2 separate regions of the Homo sapiens genome follow, and region 1 is linked to region 2. A link means that fine-mapping ties the variant in region 2 to the expression of a gene that starts in the linked region. Tissue or cell type: monocytes. Region 2 holds a variant in brackets; the other region holds the start of a gene. All regions are shown on one strand. Distances are from middle to middle.

Evidence for each region. PIP is the estimated chance that this variant, and not a neighbour inherited with it, causes the effect.
Region 1: ZMAT3 starts here. The variant in region 2 is fine-mapped to the expression of ZMAT3 in monocytes (Fairfax 2014, PIP 0.95).

Annotation. Positions count from the first base shown.
Region 1 is chr3:179,068,356-179,076,584 of GRCh38, forward strand. ZMAT3 (zinc finger matrin-type 3) reads right to left here and starts at 3,454. Exons shown (of 6, transcript NM_022470.4): 1 at 3,240-3,454. RefSeq lists silencers at 3,181-3,330, 3,471-3,880.
Region 2 is chr3:179,007,429-179,015,657 of GRCh38, forward strand. No RefSeq gene overlaps it. Among named protein-coding and RNA genes, the nearest start is that of ZMAT3, 60 kb to the right of the region's middle. The variant T/TA (reference allele first, on the strand shown) is at 4,092.

The DNA of each region.
Region 1 (8,229 bases), 61 kb after region 2:
ACAAAAATTAGCCAGGTGTGGTGGCGAGTGCCTGTAATCCCAGCTACTCAGGAGGCTGAGGCAGGAGAATCGCTTGAACCGGGGAGGCAGAGGTGGTCGTGAGCCGAGATCGTGCCATTGCACTCCAGCCTGGGTGACAGAGCAAGACTGTGACTCAAAAAAAAAAAAGACCACCAGCTAAAAATCTTAGCAAACATATCTTCCAACCAACCAATATCAAAAAGAGTGTATAAAAGAATATCATCTTGCAGAATTCTTAAAGCACTTATAGAACTAGCTAAAATTTCAGGGAACTCTAGGAGTAGCCTAAAGTATGACAGAAATAAATAAAATATGTTCCTTCTGATCAACTAGCAATATTTAAGTAGTTGAGCAAATGTATAGCAGAGGTGGCAAACAGCCTGTGGGCCACATACAGCCACAGATGTGCTGTTTGGAATATACAGTTTTGTTTTCATTTTTTTAAGTCGAATTAGTTGTTAGCATTTAAAAATCAAGAGATTCATGGCTTCTCTTGAAAAAGGATGATCTGGCATCACTTGGCCCACATTCCTATATGGGACGCAATTAGCTAGTTAGTGCTCAGAGGCACTGTGCCCTCTAGCGAGGCCTGCCTTCTCTGGGACACCTCAGTCCCCACTCAGCTGCTGCCTGTACTTGTTACTTGCCTGTTCTCTGTGAGCTCTTGAGTTTACAGCCCTGCCTCATACAGCCTTAGATTATATTCATCAGCCCCTGTAAAACCCAAATTTTTCCTCCTTCTCTAGGTAAATTACCTACACAAAATAAGGTATCAAGGAAATGTCCAATGGAGTAATGGATCACACCACCATAAGCCACAGTATAATTCCAGTTCCTCAATCTTGAGGCTATTTCCCTCCTCCTTCTTAACAAATAACTGATAGTCTCTATTATAATTCCCTCAGAAAAGACCCAAAATGTTCCTCTCCCTCTTCAATCTTTATCCATAATGTCTCCTGCCTCCCCCCCAGATGGCGCCGTCTAACCCTGAGTGTCTCAAAATGAACCACAGTACACCCTTTGAGTTCCCAAGATTCTAATTAACCCAAATTAGAATCCTTATTTCAAAATCCACAATTCCCTCCACTCTCTCAATACAGTATTATTAAAACCTCTTCTCTTGGTCAATAGAATATGGCTATTTTAAGCTGCTGAAATTTTCCATCTGCAATGGAAATGTGTACATTATGGCAATAATAGAATTACTAAAATGAATCAAGTAAATTTTGAAAAGTTAAAGTCTATTTTACCATATTTGATAACTACACAGCACCTGAAAATCAAGTAACAACTTTCAGACGAAATTTGGGGTGGGGAGGCAACAAAGGAAATCAGCGTGATGGGAAAATAATGTAGTTAAGGACAAAGTGCATAAGTATTAGTCATAGAATTTAACAATACTTCTCATTAATCACAAAATTTAGAAAAATGATAATATTATTTAATTTTTAAGCAGAAGTGTACTGCCCATATCTCTGGGAACATAAAAGAAAAGCAATATAGAGTTTTAACATTTAAAAAGTCAGGTTCTCTGTAATGGTATTATTTCTCTTAATTGAATCAAGCAAAGATAGTCCAGAAAGCAAAGACAGATATGGTCATTTTAGAAAACGGAACTAAGTAGACAAAGAACAGCTTTTAAAAAGTTTAACTACCTAATAATAATAATTCATAATGTTGAAAAGCTACTGATGTCAAATTGCCACAAACATTCTGCTAGTTCATTAGTGAAAAGGTGGGGGGGGGTGTCAAAACCTCTGGATAAAGGAAATCAGCAATATAAACAGAAAATCAAATGCTACCAATTGCCTAGGCATGTCTGGACTTGTTTTATGAAAGCTCACTTTCACTTGAGGAAATTCTAGCATGTGTCTCCCCCAGTGTTATCTACAGGTTTCCCTCAAAATAAAGATCCTTCTCAAAGAACAGAGGCACAAAAGGCCTCCTACCAGAGGTGACAGTTACCTGATTTAAAGAAAAAATTCTTGCCAAACACAGATTTACCCATTATCACATTTGATCTTTACAATTTTTAAAGAGTAGCTTGATATCCCAAATTTATTTCTTGTTATATTTAACAATCAACACAATGTCGACTCCTCAAAAAAATCTATGTATGACAATTGCATCAAATATTAGTACATTTGCAAACAAAAATTAGTATAAAATATAAATCTTAAAATGAATAAAACCAAGTCTTCAGTGAATGCATGAATGATGGAATACAGAGACCCAAAACATGCAACTCAGATCTGTTCAACTGTTGCATTGGTTTAAAAGGGACTAATTTGAAGACTGGCATAAATATTCTTCAAATCTTAAAAACCAGTCACTTTGATGCTTGCGATGGCATAAATGAAGGATTTATGCTGGTTAATGTCCTGGTTTGGAAAGGAGCTAAGACGACATTAAAGAAAATCAAAGCTTCACAAGGTACCCTGTTTAAAGAAAATTAATTGTCATAGCATACTTAGTTTTAATGATTGGACTGGGGCCTACTCTTCACATACTGTGTTAAAGACAATCTCTTGTCTCATTTGGAGAAATCTACAGAGGAAAGAGAATAGAATAAAGGAACAGGTTAGGAGCACCTCAGCAAACTAGGTAAGTCTGTAATTGGGAATTCTGGAAATGAGGGAAAGGCAGCGAGCATTACTCAGAGGTCATCAGAACGCAGCAAGAAGGAATGAGAGGGAGAAAAGTTAAAAAAAATAATAATAATAATCACTTGAGGCAAGGTGTATCCTATAAAGAAGGCTCAAAAGAACGCAGAAAACTGGGGAAGAGGCCTTGGTGAATTGGCGAATGTTTTTCAGTCTCCGCTGTGACGGTTCCTAATCCTAGAGAACTGTTTACAGATTTGAATCAAAGCTACAGACAGTTCAGCGTCGCCCACATCCACCTTACATTCCTAAGATGTGCATGCATACACACGAACCCACACACGCACCTCAACCCGGTATGGATGCCATCACGAAGGATGGAATCCCCCGACTCCCACGGGGCGGGGGCAACTGAGAGGGCCAAGGCAGCTGCACGCACAGATGATCCACCTGGTCCACGTGAAATGCCTGAAACAAGCAAACTGATAAATAGAAGCAGCGCAAGCCCTGTCACGTGGAGGGCAGATGGAAAGAGCATCGGAAAGGAACCGCTAGTCCCCGGCGCTCCAGGGGCTCGTCCTGAAAGCTCCGCGGCTCCCAATCGCCCGCACTTACCGGAACCCCCGGGACGCGCCGGCAGTCTCCGCGCCGCGTCCGCCCGGGACGCCCGCGACGCCCGCCCTGCGCGCCCGGCTCGGCCCAGCTCGACCCAGCCTCTTCTCGGAGCAACTTTCTCCGCCGGCCGCCGCCGAGCCCCCTCCGCAGCCGAAGGCTGACTGTCAAAAGTCAGTCCAACCCGACCCACAGGGAAACAGCTGCAGGAAGTGACTGCGGAACCGGGAGGCGGTGGAGGAGGAGACTGAGGGCGCCGGCTCGGCGTCGCCACTGCGCATGTGCTTGGCGGAGCAGGCCCGGCAGCGGTGGCAGCGGTAGCAGTGGCGGCTCCCGCATCCCCGGCGGGCGGCGCGTGGGTCAGGTGCCCTGGCCGCGAGCGCAGGGGCGCGGGGTTAGGCCGGCGTGGGGAACAAAGGCACGAGTGAGAGGCGGGAGGGTCCCGCCGCCAATCTCAGCAGACAGCCCCGAAGAGCAGTTCAGCAGATGCCCTGGAAAGTTAATCCTTGGTAGAAGCCTGGGCAGAGCTTTTGCAACTTTCATCTCCAGTCATTGGGATCCAAACATTGTTCATTCTGTTCCTCCCTTAGCCTGCTGGTTGGCGGTTAAGGCGGCTGAGTGGATCCTTTAAACTGCTGCAACAGAACCTTTAAACTGCTGCTCTCCCCACTTCCGCCCCAGGATGGAGGAAGAAGAGCGTGGCTGCCTGCCCAGTATCGGCCTCCCTCACACAAAACGCCCCCACCCACCCACACACACACCTTCCCTCCCCTACACGAAAGTGAGCAGGAGATAGAGGAGACTTTCTCCTGACCCCCAGAGGCTCACCTGCAAGACAGGAAGGACCAGGAAAAGAGTGGCCAACGCTAGGATGTCACATCCTTCATAACCAACCTGGACATCTTCAATGTTAACACTGAGTGATGAGCTGAGGAAATTCCGGCTCTAAACTTATAGCGTAAATTAACTCGTATGAAGATCTGCTGGGGTATTATTTTTGTGTGTGGCAAACGATAACAAATATACTACTTTAAGAGTACAGGCCGGGCGCGGTGGCTCACGCCTGTAATCCCAACACTTTGGGAGGCCGAGGCGGGTGGATCACGGGGTCAGGAGATCGAGACCATCCTGGCTAACACGGTGAAACCCAATCTCTACTAAAAATACAAAAATATTAGCCAGGCGTGGTGGTGGGCGCCTGTAGTCCCAGCTACTCGGGAGGCTGAGGCAGGAGAATGGCGTGAACCCGGGAGGCGGAGCTTGCAGTGAGCCGAGATCGCGCCGCTGCACTCCAGCCTGGGTGACAGAGCGAGACTCCGTCTCAAAAAAAAAAAAAAAAAAAGTACAGTTCAGTGGCATTAAGTACATTTGCATTATTGTGTGGTTATTTTTTAAAACACGAATTAAAATGCCAAGGAGATCTAAGTATAGTAAGATGTGCCCTATTAGTAGGGAAACAACTGCAGGAAATCAAGGCTGTTTCTTTGGCTGAAAAATGCACCAATCCAATACCAACAACAACAAACCATAAAAGACTTCATAAGTACAATGAATATGAAGTACAAACATATACACACAGTGTACACCAGCCATTTGGGGAGAGTAATCCATCACCTGAATTGTTTTTCCAGCTGTATAGGTACATTTACTTTATGTGTCACTATTTTAAAGGGCTATATTGTTTCTAAAATAATAAATGCTGCTAAAATCCACTCTCCAGCCCCTTTTCTATATGGTCTTTAGCCAGTCTTAGAACTTCACAGTCCACACTCCTTATCTAGGACCACAAGTAGGCCTTGCGGAGCCTTTCCGATCTGACCTTCCACCAGTCTCCCCTCATCATTTCACTCACACCCCCATCCATGCCCCTTCATTTCCTGCCTCTGTAATTTAGCTCTGTCTGCATCTTGAATACAAAATGCTTTCTCTCCCCTCCCCTTGAATTGTCAAATCCTACCTGTCCTTCCAGGCCTCTTCTTTCATGAGGTCCCACAGCACTTTTCTCCGCACACCTTGATGACACACTATTTGTTGTCCCACATTATAATTACTTAAGAGATATTTCCTCTGCCCTGTAAATACCTTGAGTCCAGGAAGGATAAATGTCTTGGAGTTTTCAAGTTTTATGTTTGATAGTTTGATGTGTTCTTGTCCATCAGGATGAAAATCTGAACAATTCCATGTTCTCTGCTCACATACTCTTCTCAGACAGCTAGGGCATTTCCTTCCCTGCCTCGGGGAGAAAGAAAAGGCAAATCTGATGCTTGTGTAATAGATATTTGAAGCTCATGGCAGTGACAGTAGTCTCATAAGTCAGAGTTTGTAGTTTAGAATTGGCTGGACTTCATGAGTTTCAGCACATGAGGTGAAAGGAAAAAAAGCCACAAACAATATATTCATCACTTTTGCGGTTGAAAAAAAAAAAAATGGCTGATGGCCACAAAGGTTTATTTCTTATTTGTATTACATGCTGGGTCAGCTGAGGTTCTGCTCCATGGGTCTCCTCAATCCAGTGCCCAAGCTGAAGAAGCTGCCCCTATGTAGAACTTGGCAATTCTCAAGGGAGATGGGAAGAGCCAGAAAGCTGTTAGAAACTTGTGAAGCCTCTTAAAGCTGCTTCTCTAATGTCTCATGACATGTCTACTCAAATCCCATTGGCCAAGGTCTTTCATATGGCCAAACCCCAAGTAAGTGGAGAAGTCTACTTCTTTCATAGGCAAATCACATGGCAATGGGCATGGATTGTAATTTTTTTGGAGTGGGGGTTGTGTGGTTAATTGTAAACAATAATGCAATCTGCCACAAAGATGGGGGAACCAATTTTCTCTCCCCAGAGATATTGGTGTATGTCCCAAAGAAAGGCCTATAAATCCCCACCCACCCACCAGCCACACACACCCAGTCGTTGGGATTCCTTTGAAAGAAACTGTGGAGCTAGAAATAATACAATTCCCACATGTGTGAAGATCTAGAGATTGGGGGCATCTGAGCTCTATTCCCAGTGGGGATCAGAAAAGCAATCAAGGTCTAGGGTTTTGCCTCAATAAGTCAAAAGAGAGTAGGATGTTAGCCTGAACTGTTTCAGCCAGAGGAATGCCCCTAAACTTTTTTTTTTTTTTTTTTTAGTATTTATGGCATTAGAGACTATTCAAGGGAGCTGACAGCTGTAGGGGGCTGATGAGCCTACAGGTCGGAAAGGGGAAGGATAGAACTGAATGAACAGAGCACTGATCTGATAGCAGAGAAAAAATAGACATCGCCTATTGAGGTCAAAGCCAAGGCGTGTTTGCACTGATGTCTACTTCCTCTTGCCACCTGCCTCCCCACTTCACCCAACCCCACCCCAAATTTTAGGGTTATCCTCAGAAAAATAAGGGGAAGCAGATCATTTTGAAGTGAATAGATATTAGCCAGAAATGACTTGGAGACAGGAGAGATTTGTGGGTAATAGAAATACATGTAGAATTGACTAATTTGTTTCTCTCTTGAAAAAGAACAGGATCTCAACATTGAGACTAATTTTAATTACTTTTTTAAAAGCAACGTTTTTATACACTGACTTTCATGACCTGATATAGTATAACCAGTACATTTGGATGACCATAGTTGATTGCATAAATGTATGAATGAATGAGGAATTTATTTTCTGCATTCTGTAATAGGCATTATAGTGCCTGCCTATGTACTTCACTGCAATGTTTCCTTTTTTAATGTAACTATTATGTGGGAAACTCTCTGAATTTATCAGAAAGGAACTCTCATATTAAAATAAGGATAATTATTTTTCATTATGCTAGACCGTATATTGAGAAAATCTACATTTGTATTTATTTACCAAGGAGATGGTCCTAACACACTTAACTTTTGGTGGCATGGCTTTAGGTTTTGGGAATCTGTCCAGAAAGCTACATGATGTACTCACAATCAGGAGAAAAACACACATCCCTCTCCAGGGACTGATACAATTCGTCAGGTCAGATCCTCTCTTGTATGGGAGTTTGTGTCATCCTTTGAGACTCCACATACCTTTTCTTTCATAACACATAATGTCTTCCAGACCGACTTCTTTCTTTAAATCATCAGAGAATGCCTCCAACATTCATTGTCTCTCATAATAACCTCGGCTTTTCAACACAATCCTTCCTTACAATCAGAGTAAAGCAATACAAAAATCTCAAATCCAGCAAAATAGGCTCTCGTGCATTTTAATAATATTCTAACATTTTTTAGCCTAAAAATAAAATATGAAGAAATAGTGGAAACATGGCAACAGCAGTCGCAAATTTTTTTTCCCTGAATTCCCCTAATTTTAAAAATGGACCTTGAGAAGAATGTGTATTCTGAAAACAAAAGGGGGGGCGCACAAAATAGATAGCAAAACCAAAGGCCTATAGCCAACTATAACAAAATATAGGAGGGAGTGGGGACAAACCACCAATAGCTACGAGACCTGTGTGGCATCAACAGGAGAAAGTAGAGAGAAACAACAGGGCAACTGACAGAAGAAAACCAAGGTGCTCTCAGCTCTCCATATCCACTGGGTTCTGCAACCACAACTATGGATCAAAAATATTTTTTAAAAAATTTGAAAATAATATAACAATGATCTACAGAGCATTTACTTTGTATTAGCTATTATAGCAATCTAGAGATGATTTAAAGTTTACTGGAGGATATACATATGTTATATACAAATACTATGACATTTTATATCAAGGCAGCTGCAGATTTGGGTATGCTGGGTCTGGAGGGTCCTGAAACCAATCCCCCACATACTGAGGGACAGCTGTAGCTGATGGGACTCACTGGAAAGTTCAGAGAGCCAATTTGAGAACAGTAACTGAAACTGAGAGGAGCTTTGCGCTTCTAAGAGTGGATTCGTGCAATGGGTAAGAGGGGAGTTTTGACAGGACTTGTGGATGGAATGGTTATATAACAGGCACTGTAGCTTAAAGAAAATTAAAGTTAGTTTCTGGGCCAAGTTTGAGGACTA
Region 2 (8,229 bases):
ATTAAATGGACTAAACTCCCCAATCAAAACACACAGAGTGGTTGAATGAACTAAAAAAAAGAAAGACCCATTGATCTGTCACCTACAAAAAAAAAAAAAAAAAAAACCACGTTTTACCTATAAAGACACACATAGACAGAAAAATAAAGGGATGAAAAAATCTGTTCCATGCCATTGGAAACCAAAAATGAGCAGGAGTAGTCACACTTATTTCAGACAAAATAGATTATAAGACAAAAACTGTAGGAAGAAACAAAGAAGATCATTATATAATAATGGTAAAGGGGTCAATTCAGCAAGAGGACATAACAATAGTAAATATACATGCACAAAACACTGGAGCACCCAGATATATAAAGCAAATATTATTAGAGCTAAAGAGAGATAGACTCCAATACAATAATAGCCGGAGATGTCAATGCCCCATTTTTAGCATGGTACAGAAAATCAACAAGGAAACATATGACTTAATCTGCCCCATAAAACAAATGGATCTAATAGATATTTATGGAACATGTCATCAAATGGCTGCAGAATACACATTCTTTTTCTCAGCACATGGATCATTCTCAAAAATAAACTATATGTTAGGTCACAAAAAAAGTCATAAAACATTCAAAAAAACTGAAATAATATCAAGCATCTTCTCTAAAAACAATGGGATAAAACTACAAATCAGTGACAGGAGGAATTCTGGAAACTATACAAATGCATGGAAATTAAACAATATGATCCTGAATAACCAGTGGATCAATGAAGAAATTAAGAAGGAAGTTGAAAACTTTCTTGAAACAAAATGATAATGGAAACACAACATACCAAAAGCTATGGGACACAGCAAAAGTGGTACAAAAAGAGAAATTTATAGCCAGAAACATCAAAAAGGTAGAAAAATTCAAATAAACAACATAACAATGAATCTTAAAGAACTAAAAAAGCAAGAGCACACCAAATCCAAAATTAGTAGAAGAAATAATAAAGATCAGAGCAGAAATAAATGAAATTGAAGTGAAGAAAACAATACAAAAGATCTTTGAAGCAAAAATTTGGCTTTTTGAAAAGTTAAACAAAATTGACAAACCTTTAGCCAGGCTAAGAATAAAAGAGAGAAGACTCAAATAAATAAAATCAGAGATGAAAAAGGTGATATTACAACTGATACCTCAGAAAGCAAAGGATAATTAGTGGCTAGTTTGAGTAACTATATGGCAATGAATTGGAAAATATGGAAGAAACTGGCAAAACGCTAGACACATACAACCTATAAAAATTAAACCATGAAGAAATCCCAAACCCAAACAGACCAAAAAAAAAAAATAAAAAAATCTCCCAGTAAGGGAAGCCCAGGATCCAATGGCTTCACTGCTGAATTCTACCAAATGTTTAAAGGAGAACTGATACCAATTCCACTGAAACTATTATAGAGGAGGGAATACTTTCAAATTCATTCTACAAAGCCAGTATTCCCTGATGTCAAAACCAGGCAAAATTCATCAAAAAAAGAAAACTACAGGCTAATATCTCTGATAAATATTAATGCAAAAATATTCAACAAAATACTAGCAAACCTAATTCAACAATATATTAAAAAGATAATTCATCATAACCAAGTGAGATTTATTCCAGGGATGCAAGAATGACTCAACATATAAAAATCAATCAATGTGATACAGCATATCATCAGAATGAAAGACAAAAACTATATGATTATTTCAACTGAGGCTGAGCAAGCATTTGACAAAGTTCAACATTCTTTCATGATAAAAACTCACAAAAAAACTGGGAATAGGAGAAATACACCTCAACATAATAAAAGCTACATATAACAGACCCACAGATAGTATCATACTGAACAGATAAAAAAACGAAATGAAAGCCTTTCCTCTAAGAGCAGGAACACAACAAGAATGCCCACTTTTACCACTGTTATTCAACATAGTACTGAAAGTCTTAGCTAGAATGATCGGATATGAGAAAAAAATAAAGGGTATCAAATTGAAATGGAAGAAGTGAAATTATCCTTGTTTGCAAATGATATGATCTTACATTTGGAAAAACTTAAAGACGCAACCAAAACACTATTAGAACTGATAAATAAATTCAGTAAAGTTGCAGGACATAAAATGAACATACAAAAATCAGTAACATTTCTATATGCCAACAGTGAACAATCTGAAAAAGAAATTTAAAAAGTAATCCCATTTATGATAGCCAAACGTAAAATTAAATACTTAGGAATTAACCAAGGAAGTGAAAGATCTCTATAATGAAAACTATAAAACACTGATGAAATAAATTGGACACCAAGAAATGGAAAGAAATCCCATGTTCATGGATTGGAAGAATCAATATTGTTAAAATGTCCACACTACCCAAAGCAATCTACAGATTTAATGTAATCCCTATTCACATACCAATGACATTCTTCACAGAAATAGAAAAAACAATCCTAAAATGTTTATGAAACCATAAAAGACCCAGACTAGCCAAAGCTATCCTGAGTGCAAAGAACAAAACTGTAGGAATCACACTAGCTAATTTCAAATTATACTACAGAGCTATGGTAACCAAAACAACATGGTACTGGCACAAGAACAGACACATAGACCAATGGAACAGAATAGAAAACCCAGAAACAAATCCATACACCTACAGTGAATACATTTTCAACAAAGGTGCCAAAAGTGTACATTACAGAAAAGACAGTCTCTTCAATAAATTGTGCTGGGAAAACTGGATAACCATATGCAGAAGAACAAATTTTATCTATATCTCTTGTGTTATATAAAAATCAAACGAAACCGGATTAAAGACTTAAATCTAAGACCTCAAACTATGAATTTACTACAATAAAACACTGGGGAAATTCTCCAGGACATTGTTCTGGGCAAAATTTTGAGTAATACCTCACAAGCACAGGCAATCAAAGCAAAAATGGATAAAGAGGATCGCATCAAGTTTAAAAGCTTCTGTACAGAAAAGGCAACAAGCAATAAAGTGAAGAGACAACCCACAGAATGAGAGCAAATATTTACAAACTACCCATCTGACAAAAGATTAATAACCAGAATATATAAGGAGCTCAAACAACTCTACAGGAAAAAAATCTAATAATCTGATTTAAAATAAGCAAGAGATTTGAACAAACATTTCTCAAAAGAAGAAACACAAATGACAAACAGGCATATGAAAAGGTGTTCAATATCATTGATTATCAGAGAAATGCAAATCAAAACTACAGTGAGATATCATCTTACCCCAGTTAAAATGGCTTATATAGAAAAGACAGGCAATAACAAATGCCAGTGAGGATTTGGAGAAAAGGAAACGCTCATACCCTGTTGGTGGGAAAGTAAATTAGTAAAACCACTTTGAAGAAGTTTTGAGATTCCTCAAAAAACTAAAAATTCAGCTACCATGCAATCCAGCAATCCCATTGCTGGGCATATACCCAAAAGAAAGGAAATCAGTATATCAAGGAGATATCTGTACTCCCATATTTGTTGTAGCACTGTTCACCATAGCCAAAATTTGGAAGCACCCTAAGTGTCCATCAATAGATGAATGCATAAAGAAAATGTGATACCTATACATAATGGAGTACTCTGCAGCCACAAAAAAGAATGAGATTCTATTATTTGCAACAACAAAGGATGGAATTGGAGGTCAATATATTAAGTGAAATAAGCCAGGCACAGAAAGATAAATGCATGTTCTCACTTATTTATGAGATCTAAAAATCAAAACAATTGAACTCATGGAGATAGAGTGTAGACTGATGGTTACCAGAGGCTGGGAAGGGTAGTGAGGGGAGGGGAGGAAGTGGGGATGGTTAATGGGTACAAAAAAGTAGTTAGAAAGAGTGAATAAGACCTAGTATTTGATAGCATACCAGGTTGACTATAGTTAATAATAATTTACCTGTACGTTTTAAAATAACTAAAAGAGTATAATTGGATTGTTTGTAATACAAAGGACGAATGCTTGAGGGGATGGATACCCAATTTTCCATGATGTGATTATTATGCATTGCATGCCTGTACCAAAATATCTCATGTACCCCATGTATACACCTATGTACCCACAAAAAC[T/TA]AAAAAAAAAAAAAAAAAAAACTACAACCCAGGAAAATCTGCCAGATTGCCACTGCCTGTCTGTTTCAACTGAAGATGTTTCTAACCCAAATCTGGCCATCTTCTCAACTGACTGCCCTCCAGACTCTAAAGAAACTAATTTATAGGCTGTTCCAAATGTTAACGTTATTTTTCTCTGTTTTCATAGAAATGTCTCTTATCAAAGATGTTTGGCCTAACTTTGAGAGCCCATCTGCAATGCCACCTGTTGCAATGGGAAACAACAGTTTAACTGATGTAGTATCACAACTAAGAGACGGATTCAAGAAGATATGGCATGACATACTTATATTTGTTCTTTTCTGCTTATCCCAATTTGTTTTGCTCCCTCTTATCTCAAAACTTCTAACCCAAATCTCTCCATAGCTACCAATCCTACTTTAATAAGTGACACTTCTGTGTTTTTTTTTTTTTTTTGAGACAGGGTCTCTCTCTGTCACTCAGGATAGAGTGGCACAACCTCAGGTCACTGCAACCTCCCCCTCAAGGCTCAAGTGATCCTCCAACCTCCCCCTCAAGGCTCAAGTGATCCTCCCACCTCAGCCTCCTGAATAGCTGGGACTACAGGCACGTGCCACCATGGCTAGCTAATTATTTTTTTTTTTTCTGTAGAGATGGGCTTTTGCCATATTTCCCAGGCTGATCTCAAACTCCTGGGCTCAAGCGATCCACCCACCTCAGCCTCCTGAAGTGTTGAGATTACAGGCATGAGCCACTGCGCCCAAACATTAATAAGCGAAACGTTCTAAAGTTTCAAGTGGGGGACTAAAGGAAACTAAGAAATGTTTCACTCCAAAATATACTTCTTTGACATATTTTGAGATGACTATTCAGAGGGCCTGCAACACAAGAATCAGCCTGCAAAGCTGAGTCTTTTACGGGGATTTGCATCTCTAGAGGAAATAAAGTGAAGTAAACAACAGATGCAAACAGGCTTTTTCTGAAGCCCCACCTTGTCCAGAACAAGGCAAGATTAACTGAGAGCCTGACACCTTTAAAGGTTTTATAGAAACATCTACCACAGGCTCCCATCTCTTTTTTTTTTTTTTTTTTTTTTTTGAGATGGAGTCTTGCTCTGTCGCCCAGGCTAGAGTGCAGTGGTGTGCTCTCAGCTCACTGCAACCTCCGCCTCCCGGGTTCAAGCTATTCTCCTGCCTCAGCCTCCCAAGTAGCTGGGACTATAAGCACCCGCTACCACACCCAGCTAATTTTGTATTTTTAGTAGAGACGGGGTTTCACCATGTTGTCCAGGCTGGTCTCGAACTCCTGACCTCAGGTGATCCACTTGCCTTGGTCTCCCAAAGTGCTGGGATTACAGGCATGAGCCACCGTACCTGGCCTCCCATTTTTCCTTTCTGAGGGCTGCTACCTGTGAGATCATCTGCATAACAAGACCACCTTTGCAGCACACCTTGCCTCTTCTCTCCTTCCCATAACCTCTCATGCCACCATAACCTGTCTTGACAAGCTTCAAGCCCCTATTCTTTCTGTAACCTCAAGATAGTATTAAAGAGTTGTGAATGGAAAATAAAATTTTGGGACCCCCTATTCACCATACCTAAGGGAAAAAGTCAAGCTTGAGAACTGAGTCACACAAAACTGCCTCCCATTTTGTTCCTCAACAGCTACAAAGATGAAAGACTACCTACATACCTCCCTCGCAATTTGCTCACGAGCAAATTTTTTGTGGGCCCTCAAGATCCTTACCCTAAAACAGTTCTGTTGAATTTCACCCTGACAATAACAAACAATTTATCTTCAGAAGAACGGGACAAAGGATAGAACCAGAAGTCATACCTCTGCTCACCTGAGACAAATGCATATTTGACTGCTTCCTCTATTCTGTTTACTTATCTTATGTAAAAACGTAGATTCACTGAGCATGAGACAAATGCCTCTACCCTCTCCTTTCACATGTAAAATGTGGATCCACTGAACGCTGATGAAATCTTCAAAAGATTGCAACTTCTTGCCTCTTTCATCTACACTTCTTTTCTCTCCTGCCCATGTTTTCCCCTTTAAATATGGAAGCACTCAAAATCCTCTTTGGAAAAAAAGTGTGGGCCACAGATTCTATTGTGGCTAGTGGCTTTTTTTCCTGGGTGTATCATCAACCTTGGCAAAATAACTCTCAGTTGATTGAGATCTGTCTCAGATACTTTTTGGTTTACAGCATCAGCTGTCTGGACATTTGAGTTTTTCATATTTTGTATGACTCCCATGCCCATATGTACATTAATAAATCTGTATGCCTTTTTTCCTGTTAATCCATGGTCAGTTTGTTTTACAGACTCAAATTATCAAAGCTTCAGTGAAAAAAATTAAACTTTTATACACTTTGCATATATAAAATAATTTATAATTTTCCAAGTCTTCAGCTATGTACACCTATGGTCACAGTAGCATTATTCACAATAGCTAAAAGGTAGAAGCAACGTAAGTGTCCATCAGTGGATGAATAAACAAAATGTCATCGATACATGCAATGGGATATTATTCAGCCTTAAAAAGGAAGGAAAGTTGATAAATGCTTGAGGTGATAAGATACCCCAATTACCCTGATTTGATCATTACACATTGAATGTTTGTATCAAAATGACACATGTACCCCATAAATACGTACAATATTATATATCCCTAATTAAAAATAATTTTTAAAAATGAAGGAAATTCTGATACATACTACGACATGGATGAACCTTGAGGACATTATGCCAAGTGAAATACGCCAGACACAAAAGGACAATTGTCATATGATTCCACTTATATGAGGTACCTCAAGTAGTCAAAATCATAGAGACAGAAAGTAGAATGGTGGTTACCAGGGACTGGGGAAGAGAGAATGTGGAGTTATTGTTTAATGAGTAAAATTTCCGTTTGGGAAGATAAAAAATTTCTGGAGATGGAGAGTGATTATGATTGTAAACTAAATGGTTAAAATGGTAAATTTTATATGTTTTGCTATTTTTAAGGGTTTAATTTTTTTAAATTATTATTACATAAATGTCCATCAATAGAGGATCAATAACAGAAATTTTAGAAATCATACAAGGAAACACCACAGAATGAAAAACAATGAAATAGATCCACATGTGCTGGTATGGAATGCTTGCCAAGGTCACACACACACACACACACATACACACACACACACATACCCCAAGGTGATGAACAGAACAGTAGGGATGGAATGCCTCCATTCACGTTACATAGACTTTATCTGGAAAAGACTCAAGAAACTGCTAACCGCGATCAATTGCCGCTGGGCAGGGGGGACATGGCAGCATGGAGTTCAGGAGTGAGTTCAGGACTTATGTATTTCGAAAAAAAAAAACAATTCTTTTTGAAAACAGCAATCTTCTAAATTATCCATAGTACTGAAAGAGAGGAATAAAGAAGAAATAACTAGATCCACCCCTAATACCCCAGTTATGGGGATCTGAATTTCAAGAGGTCAAGTGACAAGCCAGGGAACACACTGGTGACAGAACTGAGACCAGTTACCCAGTATGTACTTTTTCTGAATGTTTGAAATATTTAATAAAACTACTTTTTTAAAAAAGTCTCTTTCTTCATTGCTAGCTTATTAAAGCAGAAAATATTGTTTTCCCCAAAAATAAACTATGTTTGGGAAAATTTTAATATTTTATAGTTTAATTTTTATGTCAGCAAGATTTCCATGTTTGGTAACATTTGCCCTTGTATATAATTGTGTTTTTAAATTTTCAAGTCTTCTTTGATGAAAGATTTTTCTAGTCCTTTACTTCCTGGTTGGGGCCTTCATTGACCATTATTTTAATTTCCATGTTTGTTGTTGTTCACATAACCGAATATGTAGAGAACAGATTTTTTTAAACAAAATAGACGTTTTTAAATAATCACAAAAAATGAGACATTCACACATGCCTGTGCATATATATCTATCCATACATATATATGGATCCTGATTTCCAATTCAACACTTTCCCACTCTGTCATCCTTTACAGACTTAAGCTGCAAAAACAGTCCTCAGTATCTCTTAAAGGCATGACTTGTTTTATTTACAGATAAAAACTCATATCCTCCACAAGGTGGTTTTCAACCAAACATCCTGCTTTA